Homo sapiens: one gene and its partner. The protein of the gene in region 1 purifies or fractionates together with the protein of each later gene. This does not show direct contact. Each region holds a gene or a part of one and is shown on either strand. Other genes may lie near its edges.

Evidence for each region.
Region 2: the proteins of RPRD1A (region 1) and RPRD2 purify together in Homo sapiens (affinity purification with mass spectrometry; 2 studies listed by BioGRID and IntAct, with this or other methods). This does not show direct contact.

What each region holds. Positions count from the first base shown.
Region 1 is NC_000018.10:36,064,309-36,072,184, forward strand, and holds the start of RPRD1A (regulation of nuclear pre-mRNA domain-containing protein 1A), read right to left. Parts: upstream 3,252-7,876; 5' UTR 3,097-3,251; coding exon 2,946-3,096; intron 1-2,945. UniProt on the Homo sapiens protein: Interacts with phosphorylated C-terminal heptapeptide repeat domain (CTD) of the largest RNA polymerase II subunit POLR2A, and participates in dephosphorylation of the CTD by RPAP2.
Region 2 is NC_000001.11:150,359,814-150,367,146, reverse strand, and holds the start of RPRD2 (regulation of nuclear pre-mRNA domain-containing protein 2), read right to left. Parts: upstream 3,001-7,333; 5' UTR 2,433-3,000; coding exon 2,228-2,432; intron 1-2,227.

The DNA of each region.
Region 1 (7,876 bases):
GATGGGGGACGAGCTCCCTCTGGGCTGCTAGAGTGCCCAAGCTAGGTGCCGCAAAGTCCCGCGGCGAGTGCCATTGAGAGGTGAAGCCAGCTGGGCTTCTGGGTCAGGTGGGGACTTGGAAAACTTTTCTGTCTAGCTAAAGGATTGTAAACGCACCAATCACCACTCTGTGTCTAGCTCAAGGTTTGTAAACGCACCAATCAGTGCTCTGTGCCTAGCTAGAGGTTTGTAAACACACCAATCAGCACTCTGTGTCTAGCTAAAAGTTTGTAAATGCAACAATCAGTGCTGTGTGTCTCGCTAAAGGATCATAAAACGCACCAATCAGCACTCTGTCAAAACGGACCAATCAGCTCTCTGTAAAATGGACCAATCAGCAGGACGTGGCTGGGGCCAGATAAGAGAATAAAAGCAGGCCACCCAAACCAGCAGCAACAACCCGCTTGCGTCCACTTCCCTGCTGTTGAAGATTTGTTCTTTCACTCTTCACAATAAATCTTGCTGCTGCTCACTCTTTGGGTCCCTGCCGCCTTTATGAGCTGTAACACTCACCGCGAAGGTCTGCAGCTTCACTCCTGAAGCCAGCGAGACCACGAATCCACCGAGAGGGACCAACAACTCCGGATGGAAGGAACAACTCCAGACGCACTGCCTTTAAGAGCTGTAACACTCACAGTGAAGGTCTGCAGCTTCACTCCTGAAGCCAGCGAGACCACAAACCCATCAGAAGAAAGAAACTCCAGACATGTCTGAACATCAGAATGAACAAACTCCGGACACACCATCTTTAAGAACTATAACACCGCGAGGGTCCACAGCTTCATTCTTGAAGTCAGCGAGACCAAGAACCCACCAATTCTGGACACACTATGACAACCACTATCTTGGAATATGGTGTTAATCACTACTATGCATATTTTAATATAGGTATCTATAAACAAAAGAAGTACTGTTTTGCATGTTTTTAGACTTTACCCCCATAGCATTATTCGTCTGTACCTTGTTTTCTTAGCTCAAGATTTTGTTTGTTTTTCAATTCAGTCACGTTGTTTCATGCAGCTCTAGTCCATTCGTGAGAACTTTTCGATAGTATTACATTTTATTAATATCACAATTTATTTGTCCATTCTCAAACTAATGGAATGGTTTTTTTGTTTTCTTATTTTTTGTAAAGAAAAGGTTTCACTATGTTGCACAGGCAGGGTCTCACTTGTTTTCAATTTTGTTATTATGAAGCTGCAATAAACAATTCTTGAGAACAATACTTATTTCTAGAATATATTCCTAGAAAGAAAACTGCTAGGTCAAAGGATATATTTAATATATACCTCCAACTTCATCAACTAAGTTGATCTACAAAATAGTTACATATTTTTACATTCCCACCAAGTGGTATAAGAGTTCCTGTTTCTCTGCAACAATTATCCATATTGTCATATTATTTTGCCAAATTGATGAACATAAAGTGGTACCTCACTGGCTTACTTTTTCCTGATTTGTAAGATTAAGTATCATTTATTGACCTTTCAGGTTTCCTCACGTGAAATGCCTATAAACAGTACTGCCATTTTTTTTTTTTACTGATTTGTAATAGTTATTAAGAGAGTCTGGGTATCAACCCTATACTGATTACATGTGTTTCTAAATGCTCTCTGCAAAAACAAAAAACAAGATAAACCTGTTACCGATTCTGAAATCTAGTAAAATGTAAAAGCAAAGCTAATTCCTGACTTTTCAAAGTTCACAGCTACTTTCCAGACCTTTATATCAGTGTTTCTGAAACCTTTCCGTCCACTCACAGAAGATGAATTCCTCATTCAGGGCCAATACACACATACTTACACATAAACTGAAAAACAAGGCTGTAAATCAATTTCTTCTCAAGGATGGGTGACGTTTTCATAACCACAAACAATATACAAGGACAGATTGTCTCCATTATATACAGCCAACATTTTGGCTCACATTTTGGCTGTTACGTACATACATCATATAGCTTTCACAAGGTTCAGTAAGCAAGCGTCTATTTTGATTAATAACGGTTAAAACCTTTAACACTTGATAAAAAACCATCATATCCATCAGGATGTTTGCAACAATAATGAAGAGTGTCCACTCTACCCAATGAATTAAGAATTAAAGTACAAGCTCAGACTAAGCAAATGAAATTTTTTATTTTCAGTCGCACTAGGATAATTTTTTACAAAGTTGCTCTGCATACATGAACTGATTCTGAATATTTTAGTGACAGACATCTCAAAAAAGTTTACTTCATTTACAGGAACACTATCAAATGTTTTGCAAAACAAAGACACTGCATTAGGGCATATAATCATAGAATAGGAAAGGACTTTAGGTGACTTACTCTAAATCTCTCCTTTTCAGGTAAGGCATCTGCAACGCAGAAGTTATAAGAAACTTGCCCAATTGAGACCCTCTAAAATCTACAAATTCAGAGTCTTTTCCACTGCATTACCCATCTTCTTATATTAGACTTCTAAAACTATTCCTCTATTAATTTCACAAGAATAAGTTGCTGCGTTACAGAAATGACGGAAGTAACTCCCAAACCCACACCAATCTTTTTCTTTCCACTCCCCTACCTTCTCCCTCCCTTATCCTCCATTATCATTCACAGAATGAAAAAAATACCTGACCACCTGAATTTCTGGCCCTAATTGGGTGTGGAGTCCCAACCCCCTGCTACTGTTTCCGTGTTAAGCTAACCGGAGTTTTCTTTTTTAATTATTCATTCCTTTATTCAATAAATATCTAAGCCCAGACTTTGCAGAAGCGTGGTGCACGCAGCTCCTCCAAGCCCGCAGACCACCGCGCGCTGGCATCCCGACGCCGGGAAGCCGGGGGCGCTGGAGAAACGGGGTTCCCGGGGGCGCCTGGAGGCCGGCCGGGTGGTGGGAAGCGGCCGACATAAGCGGTTGACTCACCTTTCCGCAGCTCCCGCTCCCACACGGTGACGATGGGACGCGAGTGTTTACGGTGGTGAATGAGCCACAGGGACAAGGTCTGCACGCTCTGCTGCGAGTTGCTCAACTCCGACAGCTTCTTCTCCAGCGCCGCCTCAGAGAAGGCTGACATCCCTCCGACACCACGTTCACGCCGTCCCACGCGGTGGGGCCGAGGGGAGGAGAGTTTCGCCGCCCTAGCTGCGGCCTCGCCCCCTCACCCCACCCTTCCCCACGCTCTCACCACGGCCGCCGCTTCATCCAAGACCGGCCGCAAACCAGCAAGATGGCGTCCGGCCGGCAGTGACGTCACAGGGACCCACGCCCCGCCCCTCCCGCTGCAAGCCCTGGGAAAACGCGCGGCCGAGAAGTGGAACCGCCAGGCGGAAGGGGCGGAGTCGAAACAAGTGCAGGGGAGGCGGACAGGGGCGTGATGCCTGGGTTACTCTCAGAGGCATGGTGGGAGTTTGCCAGGCCTGAACCCTCCTTAATGGAAACTCTGTCAAAGAAGCAGTGATTACAGATCTCTACATAGGCATGTAAACTGGTATAAATTGGGGCAGGCACTTTAAAGACTATTTGCATGACCAATTACGGTTAAAAATACACCTTCCTAAATAGAGTATAGGATGGTGACCAGAGGCTGGGAAGGGTAGTGGGGGAGGGCTAAATAGAAGGACTAATAGAAGGACTAAATATAAATAGGACCTAGTATTTGATAGCATGACAGGGGACTAGAGTCAGTAATAATTTAATTGTACATTTTAAAATAACTAAAAGGATAATTGGATTGTTTGTAACACAAAGGATAAATGCTTAAAGGGATGGATACCCAACTTTGCATAATGCGATTATTAGGCATTGCCATGCCTGTACCAAAATATCTTATGTACTCCATAAATATATACACCTACTATGTACCCACAAAAATGAAAAATGAATAAAAATTTAAAAATTATAAGAATACTCTTTCCTAGCAATTTCACTAATTGCTGTCAGTGCTGGAAAAAACACCAGCATGTTTGCACCAGGAAGCTTATTCTAGGTGTTCAGTCCAACACAGTAACAGTGAAAAATTGGAACATTCACTGTTGCAGTCTACACAGATACGTCTATATTCCATAATACATGCAGCAGTTTAAAATATGGATTAATCCAAGATATGGTGGATTTGGAAGGGTTTGAGTGGGTTTTTATGAGGTTCTTTTTGAGAGAGGGCCTCACTCTCACCCAGACTGGAGTTCAGTGCCATGATCACAGCTTACTGCAACCTCGAATTCCTGGGCTCAAGCATTCCTCCCACCTTGGCCTCCCAAAATGCTGGGATTACAGGTGTGAGCCACCATGCCCAGCTGGATTTTTTTTTAATTACAGAAGCAAAAGTATAGTATACCACTTCTTGTTTAAAGGTATGTAGTTCATATGGGTTCACAAGTACGTAAACTCATGGCAAAGGTTTGGAGGAATACACACCACATGAATACTGGTCTCAGGGAGAGGATCAGAATTGGAGCCCTTAAATTGTGTCCATATTGTTTTCATTTTTACAAAAAGAATACGTGAATATATTACTTATATAGTTAAAAATTAATTACAGAAATCTCATTGTTAATCTAATGCATACACCATCATATTCTAAAATTTTTTTTGAGACCGGGTCTTACTCTGTTGCCCAGGCTGGAGTATGTGGTTCAGTCATGTTCACTGCAGTCTCGACCTCTGGGCTCAAGCAATCCTCCTCTGTGTCGGCCTCCCAAAGTGCTGGGAATACAGTTGTAAGCCACCATGCCTGGCCCTAAATATTAATACAAGAAACTTCCAGAAAGATACATAAGAAACCATAGGAATTCCTAAACTATCTTTTGACAAGCATCGTTCAAGAACTTTGCGGCCAGATGTGTGGCTCATGTCTATAATCCCAGCACTCTGGGAGGCCGAGGTGGGAGGATTGCTTGAGCCCAGGAGTTAGACACCAACCTGGGTAACATAGTGAGTCCCTGTCTTTACTAAAAATTTAAAAATTAGCTGGGCATGGTGGTATGCGCCTATGGTCCCAGGAAGCTGAGGTAGGAGGATCACCTGAACCTGAGAGGCAGAGGTTGCCGTGAGTCATGATTGTGCCACTGCACTCCAGCCTGAGCAACAGAGCAAGACCCTGTCTCAAAAAATGAAAAGGAAGGGCAGGGCACGGTGGCTCAAGCCTGTAATCCCAGCACTTTGGGAGGCCGAGGTGGGTAGATCACCAGGTCAGGAGTTCGAGACCAGCCTGGCCAACATGGTGAAATCCCATCTCTACAAAAAGTACAAAAATTAGCTGGGCATGGTGGTGGGCACCTATAATCCCATCTACTCGGGAGGCTGAGGCAGGAGAATTGTTTGAACCTGGAAGGCGGACGTTGCAGTGAGCCAAGATCGCGCCATTGCACTTCCAGCCTGGGCAACAGTGTGAGACTACATCTCAAAAAAAAAAAAAAAAAGAAAAGAAAGAGAAAGAAAAAAGAAAAAGAGAAAGAACTTCCAACAAGTAGGAACAGAATATGTATATCTGTGCCTGAGGTTCAGAGATATCGTTGTAGAGGTGAAGTTCACTCTTCCTTCACCTCTTTTCACTCCAATATCTATTCCTATCTTTACATTTCTTTCTTTCTCCATTATACATCTTTTTGTTTATCCAATCTATTTAGCCTAGTTTTTAACTTTAACTTAGTTCGAGTTTAACCTATCTTTTTTTTTTTTAAAAGGAGACAAGATATCGCTCTGTTGCCCAGGATGGAGTGCAGTGGCATCATCACAGCTCACCGCAGCCTCAACCTCCCAGGCTCAGGTGATTCCCCCCACCTCAGCCTACCAAGTAGCTAGGACTACAGGTGTACCATCATGCCCAGCTTATTTTTAAATTTTTTTTTTTAGAGATGGGGTCTCGCCATGTTGCCCAGGCTGGTCTTGAATTCTCAGGCTCAAGCCATCCTCCTGTCCCTGCCTCCCAAAGTGCTGGGATTATAGAACGTGAGCTACTGAGGCTGTCCAAACCTATCTATCCCCTGAGACCTTAAAAGTATCTTCAACAATATTCCATTCCATTCCACCAAAGACTACTTCCCATCTCCCAGTGTCTTCACCTGAGATTTCCACTCTTCTCATTCTCTATCTCTGTCTTCCTCTGTGTCTCAATTCTACCTAAAATTTCAGCTTAAATTCTGCCTTAAATTTCAGCTTTCTTTTCTTTCCACTCAGTCAATGTTAGATTCCTTCCTTGTGTTTTTTAATTACTGAATGCCTTATTTAGCACTTACACTACTAGTCTATGTTATTTACAATTTAATATATGTATTCTCTCTCTCCAGCTAGATTTAGCACTCCGTGACTCAGTCATAGCACCAACTCTTCTGTCTTCCTTGGTCCACAGTCTAATCTGGCTGTCCCTGCTCCAGGCTCCCAGAACATTCTATGTATGAATGTACCATGGCTTTTGGCACTAGGATGTTAGATCTACATTTATTGACGTTGTTACTTATAGCTATATTTTCAAAATATTGACTGTAACTATTTATACCTTTAGATACTTATGACTCGTTTTTATATCTTGTCTCTAAATTGGAAAGCAGGAGGTAAAATGGTCTCCATTCACAGAAGATATGATCTTAGATATAGATCTTGAAGAATTCACCCACAAAATTTAGAGATGATAAACAAATTCAGCAAAGTTGTGGGATATAAGATCAACACACAAAAATGAGTTGTATTTATATACACTGATAATAAATAATTTGAAAATGACATTAAGAAAAAAATCTTATTTACAATAACATCAAAAAAGGCTGAAATACTATGGAATAAATTTAGGCAAGGAAGTATAAGACTTGTATCCTGAAAACTACAAAATATTGGTGAAATATATCAAATACCTAAATAAATAGAAAGATATCCTGTGTTCATGGATTGGAGGATTTAATATTCTTAAGATGGCAATAATACCCCCAAGCAATCTTCAAATTCAATGCAATTCATGTTAAAATACCAATGGCCTTTTATGCAGAAATGGAAAACCTGACCTTAAAATTCATATGGAATTGAAAGGAGCCCTGAATAATCAAAACAATCTTGAAAAAGAAAAACAAAGTTGGAGGATTCACAGTTTCTTATTTCAAAAATTACTTCAAAGCTACAGTTATATCAAAACATATATCAGGCTAGGCGTGGTGGCTCACGCCTGTAATCCCAGCACTTTGGGAGGCCAAGGGGCTGGGGGCGGGGGGGGGGGTGGATCACAAAGTCAGGAATTCGAGACCAGCCTGGCCAATATGGTGAAACACCGTCTTTACTAAAAATACAAAAATTAGCTGGGTGTGGTGGCGTGTGCCTGTAGTCCCAGCTGCTCTGGAGACTGAGGCAGGAAAATCACTTGAACCCGGGAGGTAGAGGTTGCAGTGAGCCAAGATCGCGCCACTGCACTCCAGCCTGGGCGACAGAGCGAGACTCCGTCTCAAAAAAAAACAAAAACAAACAAAAAAAGCACACAAAACAGTGTGGTCTAGGCACAGTGGCTCATGCCCGTAATCCTAGCACTTTGGGAGGCCGAGGCGGGCGGATCTGTTGAGGTCAGGAGTTCGAAACCAGCCTGGACAACATGGTGAAATCCTGTCTCTACTTAAAATACCAAAAAATTCTCTGGGCGTGATGGCGGGCACCTGTAATGCCAGCTACTCAGGAGGCTGAGGCAGGAGAATGGCGTGAACCCAGGAGGCAGAGGTTGCAGTGAGCCGAGATTGCACCAGTGCACTCCAGCCTGGGTGACAGAGTGAGACTCCATCTCAAAAAACAAACAAACAAACAAACAAATAAACAAACAAAAAACCAGTGTGATATATTATTCAGCCATAAAAAGAGATGAAATAATAATGCATGATACAAGA
Region 2 (7,333 bases), on another chromosome or scaffold:
AAAACAACATCATATTTAGCCAAAAGCACTTAACTATATAAACTATACACAATGCACTTCAACTGACACACTGCCCTCCTGGAGCATTCATTTTTTCACTCTTAAGATATCAATAAAGGAAATAAGCTCAGGCACAATAGCAACAACAGCTGAGGTAAAAAATTCTGGCTTCATTTTATCTCATTATTGCTGACTAGAAAAAAAACTGTAATTGTCGCTTGTGATCCCACACAGCAGAGACGGGACAGGGACCAACTTATTCTTGCAAATGATGTAACCATACAGTTAAAGCCCCAGAGCCCAAGGTGAGGAAATGTAAAATGCTTGCATAGGTCAGTAAAAATGTTTTAAAATAGGGTGGAGAAGAGGTTCTCTCACTCACATTAGAACTGTTTGCAATATATCACTGGTATACCAAGAACGTTAAACATTATTTTACAAAGTTAATGATGAAGTCAAACCCTAACCCCACCATTTTACTGAGTAACCTTAAGCAACTTAATTTCCGAGTCTTAGTTTCCTCGTTTGTAAATCAGTGATTAAAAAATCTACTTCTCAGACGATTTTAAGGTACAATGAGATGACTGGGCACATAGCAGATACTTAACATGTGAGTCTTCAATGATGACTGTTATCATATTTGATGTTTTTGCACGTTATAATTTTACCTCTGGGCAAGAAAATAACTCTTTGATCGGTTATTGGTAAACACAGGTAATTCTGTCCGGTATCTACTAATTTCTCTGCATTATTATTCAAAGAACCACAAAACATCCCTCCCAAAACTTTAAACACAAATAGTTCGAAGCATGGGGCCTATAATTTTGCAAGTTTTATCTATCTGTTCTCTAAAAGGTAAACAAATCAAAACACTACAGGAGCAATGGCAGAAGTGGAATAAGGCAGAATAACTGGATGATGGGTCTCACTGGTGAAATGCCGCAGGCAGGAAGCAAAGAAAAATTCTAATAGATGTATATGGAGTATGAGTTAACCCTCTCTTCTCAGCAGGAAACAGTAACTTCTCCACACTTCCTCCTATAAGATTTGAAACGTTCTGCAAACAATCCATGCTTTAACAGAGCTCGTTTCTGCAGTAAAGCAGCAAAATGGAAAAATCTCCAGGATAAAGACAAAAAAAACATAACTGGAGAAAAAGGTACTACATATTCAAAAAGCACATTTCCTGTGCACATTACCCATGAGATCAACTCAATTGTGTAAAAAGGTATTTCAGGTAATTAAAAAGTAACGGGGCCGGGCACGGGGGGCTCACGTCTGTAATCCCTGCACTTTGGGAGGCCGAGGCAGGTGGATCACCTGAGGTCGGGAGTTCGAGACCAGCCAGGCCACAATGATGAAACCCCGTCTCTACTAAAAATACAAATAATTAGCCGGACATGGTGGCGGGCGCCTGTAATCCCGACTACTCGCGAGGCTGAGACAGGAGAATCGCTTGAACCCGGGAGGTGGAGGTTGCAGTGAGCCGAGATCGCGCCACTGCACTCCAGCCTGGGCGACAAGAGCAAAACTCCGTCTCAAAAAAAAAGAGGAACTGGACACGCTTTATATTTGAAGGTATTAACGATGATACTGACTACTGTATCGCAGTTGTTTCTGGTCAGTATCCAAGAAACCTGTATTTTATTGCAGCAAACACAGGTACAGGGAAAACCCGGTGGTGCCTCAGATCTATGTAGAGCTCATGCTGCTTCTTAACATTCATCCAGGTAAGGCTCTCCTTACTACACATCACAAGTTTTAGATACATTCATCCAGACAAGGCACTCCTCATTAAACATCACTGGATTTACTACTGCTTAAAACCACAGCTCGCCTACCATCAGGAAAGCCAGAAATCATTAACACGTCAAGGCCTGTAAGAAATAAACAGACGCTACAATTTCCGCGAAGGTTCGGAAAAATCAATACACCTTACAAGGCTCTGAAATATTAAAAACAATATACGTAAATCTCCATGGATCTGGGCCCAACGGCCCAAGGTCACAACAATTCAATGGCTAAAAAACCCAAGAAATGAGTCTCCTGCAATTCAGGACAATCCTGGCTAGGAATGGAGTCTGGGTTTGGGACCACTGGGGTCAAACCTTTAATGTGAACAACCCCAACCAAATGCTGCGGCTCCGTGGGAAAACCCCAAGCGTTTCAGGCCACACTTCCTTCCATTTCCCCAGTCTTCCCTTCCCTAGTCACCCCCAACACTCACATCTCCGGAGCCACTTCATCCAATGATAGACGATAGTACTGTGGTGTTTTTTGTTCTCTATACACCAAGACGACAAGCCTTGAATGGACTCCATGGTGTTGGTTACCGACTGGAATTTTCGATCCAACGAGGACTCCAGAGCCCCTGCCGAAGAGGCCGACGAGGAGGAGGCCTTACTGCTGCCTCCGCCGCCGCCGGCCGCCATCTTCCCGGTTTGCACAAGCGCTGCTGCTCCTCTGGCGGCGGCGGCGGCGGCGGCGGCGGGAGCGGGCAAAACAATCACTGCGAGTGCGTGAAAGCCGTAGGTGGGGAGGGAAGCTAGGGGGTGGGGATGGTGCACGCGCTGGGCTCTTCTGGAGGTACGGACGGGAACACCAGCTGCTGGGCACGCTGGCAGCTCCTACACGCTGCAAGGAGGGGCTGCGGGTCTCGGAGGTTTTATCAATATTGTTCAAGGGGTCGTGTTTAAACCAGTCAGTAATCACGGAAAAATTACGCAGAAAACAGGACCTGCAAAGCCTTTCAAAACGCCTGACGCCGAAACTAATCGTTTTATACTTTTCGGCTCTCAGTGCTAAGGCCCTTCCCCGCCCCTGTTCCCACACTCCTGTGAGCCAGGTCGGGCGTTAATATCTTAAATGTAATACTACCCGACTGCCCCTTCAGTTGCAGAAATCTTTCTTTCCTTTAGACTCGCTAGCACAGAAAAGGTCCAAGGCTACCTAGTCAGGATTTTTTTTGCAACGCAATAGCAGCAAAGGGGCAGCAACAGTATCGCGCACGCGCCACTTGGCCCCACCCCCCTACCCCTGCTTCCTTCTCAACCTTGAAAGCAGAGGGAGGCGTGATGGCGGGGCAACCTGACCAATCAGGAGTGGAGAACCACAAGCGCGCGCAGGAGCTCTGAAGCCCCCAGGGCCCAGGAGGCGCTACGATTATTTTTGCGCCTGCGCAGAAGATAAGCGTGTAACGGGATGGAAGGAAAAACTGGGAGGGATGGGTGAGGGAGCTGGTATAACTAAGGTTAGCCGGGTGGGGGGGTTCCCCTGCCCCGCCCTTTGCTGCTTTTGGCCGCTCTCTTGGGTGTGTTCAGCTCACACAACAGAGACAGAAAATTCCCACCACTGAGACCACTGTTAGTCTTCAGGGGGCTGCAGCCATCGCCCCCAACTCCTCGGAGGAGCAACGCGCGACAAAATGGCTGGCAGCCATCTTGCGGCACCACAAAAGATGCGCATGCGCCAGATCCAGTGAGCCATTCACTACGCAGACTCCGACACCAAACCGTATTTATTGCTGCCCATAGAAGATAACATTCACAGCCGCTTGACCATTTAGGTTACAGGAAAAGGAAATAAATGAGGAAGTGAAAGGAAATTTTCCTCATAAAATTTTTCGAGGCGAAAAAAGAATGGCAAGATGTGACCTCATTTTCGCCAGCTATGATACAATCTTAAAATTGCATAATACATTACAGTTTTCAAGAGTCTTACGTAACTATTATATGAACCTTATACGAACCATTTTATCGCAGGTATCTATGTAAATCCTCTGAGCTAATTTAAAGGCTCCTGTGTTCCCACTAAACATATACAGTTTTAATTCTTTTAACGTCTCCTCACTGCGGCCATGCCTCTTGAGGCAGGGAACCTGTTTTGTCAAGTTCATGTCCACTATTCATTAATTCAACGAGTTGTTGAACCTCTTGTGCCAAGTACTGTTTTAGATCATGGGGAGCAAAACAGACAAAAATCCGTTCCCTCCGGGATTTAGTGGCAGGACACCACCAACAAGTACATTTCAGACAGTATTAAATTCTGTAAAAAGGTGAAGCAGGGTAAGGGAGAAAGGGGTGTGTGTGTGTGCGCGCGTGTGTGTACGTGTGCACGGCACGCACGCGCCAGTATAAGAATGGTGGTATGGTGAACCAGGAAGTCTTCTCGAAAGAAATAACTCGATCTGAACATTGAGAAAAAAGCAACCAAGCAGATATGCGAGACGGGGAGCGGAACATGCTGGCATTAGGAACAGCAAGTGCAAAGGCTCTAAAATACAGTCTCGCTCTGTCCCTGCCAAGGCTAGAGTGCAGTGGCACTATCATATCGCACAGCAGCCTCAATCCCCCAGACTCAAGTGGTCCTCCTGCCTCAGCAGCACAAGTAGCTGGGACTACAGGCCTGCACCACCACACCTAGCTAAAAAAACAAAACAACAACAACAACATTTTTTTGAGAGGGGGAGTCTCCCTATGTTGCCCAGGCTGGTCTCAAACTCCTAGCCTCAAGCAGTCCTCCTGCTTTCAGCCTCCCGAAGTGCTGGGATTATAAGCTTGAGCCGCCATGCCTGGTCCTGACCCCACATTTTTTTTTTTTCTGTAACTCTAGCCAAAGACCCACTTTTTTATAGACTATTTTTAGAGCAGTTTTAGATTCACGGCAATTGTGTGGAAAGCACAAGGAATTCCATATACCACCTGCCCCCACACATGAATACCCTCCCCCATTATCAATGTCACGCACCAGAACGATACATCTGTTACAACTGACAAACCTACACTGACACATTATCACCCAAAGCCCATAGTTTACATTAGGGTTCGCTCTTGGTGTTATACCTTGAGTTTGGACAAATGTGCATGTATCCACCATTACAGTATCATACAGAGCAGTATCACTGCTCTAAAAACCTCTGTGTTCCACCTATTCATCCTTCCCTCCCCCTTATTCCCCTAGCGACTACTAATCTTTTTACTGTCTTCATAGTTTTGCCTTTTCCCGAATGTCATATAGGTGAAATCATTCAGTATGTAGCCTTTTCAGACTGGCTTTTTTCACTTAATAATATGCATTTCAGGCGGGGCACGGTGGCTCATGCCTGTAATCCCAGCACTTTGGGAGGCCGAGGTGGGTGGATCACGAGGTCAGGAGTTCGAGACCAGCCTGGCCAACATAGTGAAACCCCCGTCTCTACTAAAAATACAAAAATTAGCCGTGCATGGTGGCGCACGCCTGTAGTCCCAGCTACTCCGGAGGGTGAGGCAGGAGAATCACTTGAACCTGGGAGGCGGAGGTTGCAGTGAGCCAAGATCAGGCCACTGCACTCCAGCCTGGGCAACAGAATGAGATTCCACCTCAAAAAAAAAAAAAATGCATTTCAGTTTCTTCCATGTCTTTTCATGGCTTGATAGCTCATTTCATTTTAGTGCTGAATAATATTTCACTGTCCAGATGTGCCAGTTTTATTTATCCATTCACCTGAAGGACATCTTGGTTGCTTCCACATTTTTGCAAGTATGAATAAAGCTGTTACAAACATCTCTGTACAGCTTTTGGGGTGAATATATTTTCAACTCCTTGGGTAAACACGAAGGAGCACAATTGTTACATCATATGGTAAGAATATGTTTACTTTTGTAAGAAATCATCAACCTAAGGCCGGGCGCGGTGGCTCATGCCTGTAATCCCAGCACTTTGGGAGGCCGAGGCCGGTGGATCGCCCGAGGTCAAGAGTTAGAAACTGGCCAGCCTGACCAACATGGTGAAACCCCATCTCTACTAAAAATACAGGGCCAGGTGCGGTGGCTCACACCTGTAATCCCAGCACTTTGGGAGGCCAAGTGGGGTGGATCACAAGGTCAAGAATTAAAGACCAGCCTGACCAATGTGGCGAAACCCCCTCTCTACTAAAATTACAAAAAATTAGCCGGGCGCAGTGGCACATGCCTGTAATCCCAGCTACTCAGGAGGCTGAGGCAGGAGAATTGCTTGAACCTGGGCAGCGGAGGTTGCAGTGAGCCAAGGTCGCGCCACTGCACTCCACCCTGGGTGACAGAGTGAGACTTTGTCTCAAAATAAGTACATACATACATACATAAAATAAAATAAAACAAAGCAAAATTAGCTGGACATGGTGGCAGGCACCTGTAATCCCAGCTACTTGGGAGGCTGAGGCGGAAGAATTGCTTAAACCTGGGAGGCAGATGTTGCAGTGAGCCAAGATCACGCCATTGCACTACTGCCTGGGCAACAAGACTGAAACTCCCTCTCAAAAAAAAAAAAAAAAAGAAAGAAAGAAATCGGCCAGGCGCAGTGGCTCATGCCTGTAATCCCAGCACTTTGGGAAGCCGAGATGGGCAGATCACCTAAGGTCGTGAGTTCGAGGCCAACCTAACCAACATGGAGAAACCCCGTCTCTACTAAAAATGCTAAATTAGCTGGGCATGTTGGCGAATGCCTGTAATCCCAGCTACTTAAAAAAAGAAAAAATCATCAACCTACCAAAGTGGATTTACTATTTTGCATTTCCATCAGTTCTACATCCTCACCAGCATTTAATGTTGTTAATCTTTTGGATTTTGGCCACTCTAATAGGTGTGTAGCAGTATCTAATTGTTGTTTTAACTTGCATTTCCTTAATGACATATGATGTGGAGCATTTTTTTATTTTTTTGAGACGGAGTTTTGCTCTTGTTGCCCAGGCTGGAGTGATCTTGGCTGACCACAACCTCTGCCTCCTGGGTTCAAGCAATTCTCCTGCCTCAACCTCCTGAGTAGCTGGGATTACAGGCATGTGCCACCACGCCCAGCTAATTTTGTATTTTTAGCAGAGATGGGGTTTCTCCGTGTTGGTCAGGCTGGTTTTGAACTTCCAATCTCAGGTGATCCACCCGCCTCGGCCTCCCAAAGTGTGGGGATTACAGGCATGAGCCACTGTGCATGGACTTTTTTAATTTTTGAGAAGGAGTTTTGCTCTTGTTGCCCAGGCTGGAGTGCAATGGCACGATCTTGGCTCACTGCAACCTCCGCCTCCCAGGTTCAAGCGATTTTCCTGCCTCAGCCTCCCAAGTAGCTGGGATCACAGGCATGCGCCACCATGCCTGGCTAATTTTGTATTTTTAGTAGCCACAGGGTTTCTCCATGTTGGTCAGGCTGGTCTTGAACACCCGACCTCAGGTAATGTGCTCACCTTGGCTTCCCAAAGTGCTGGGATTGCAGGTGTGAGCCACTGTGCCCAGCCTGATGTGGAGCATCTTTTCATATGTTTATTTGCCATCTCTGTATCTTTTTTTGATGATGTGTCCGTTAAGGTCTTCGGCCCACTTTTTTT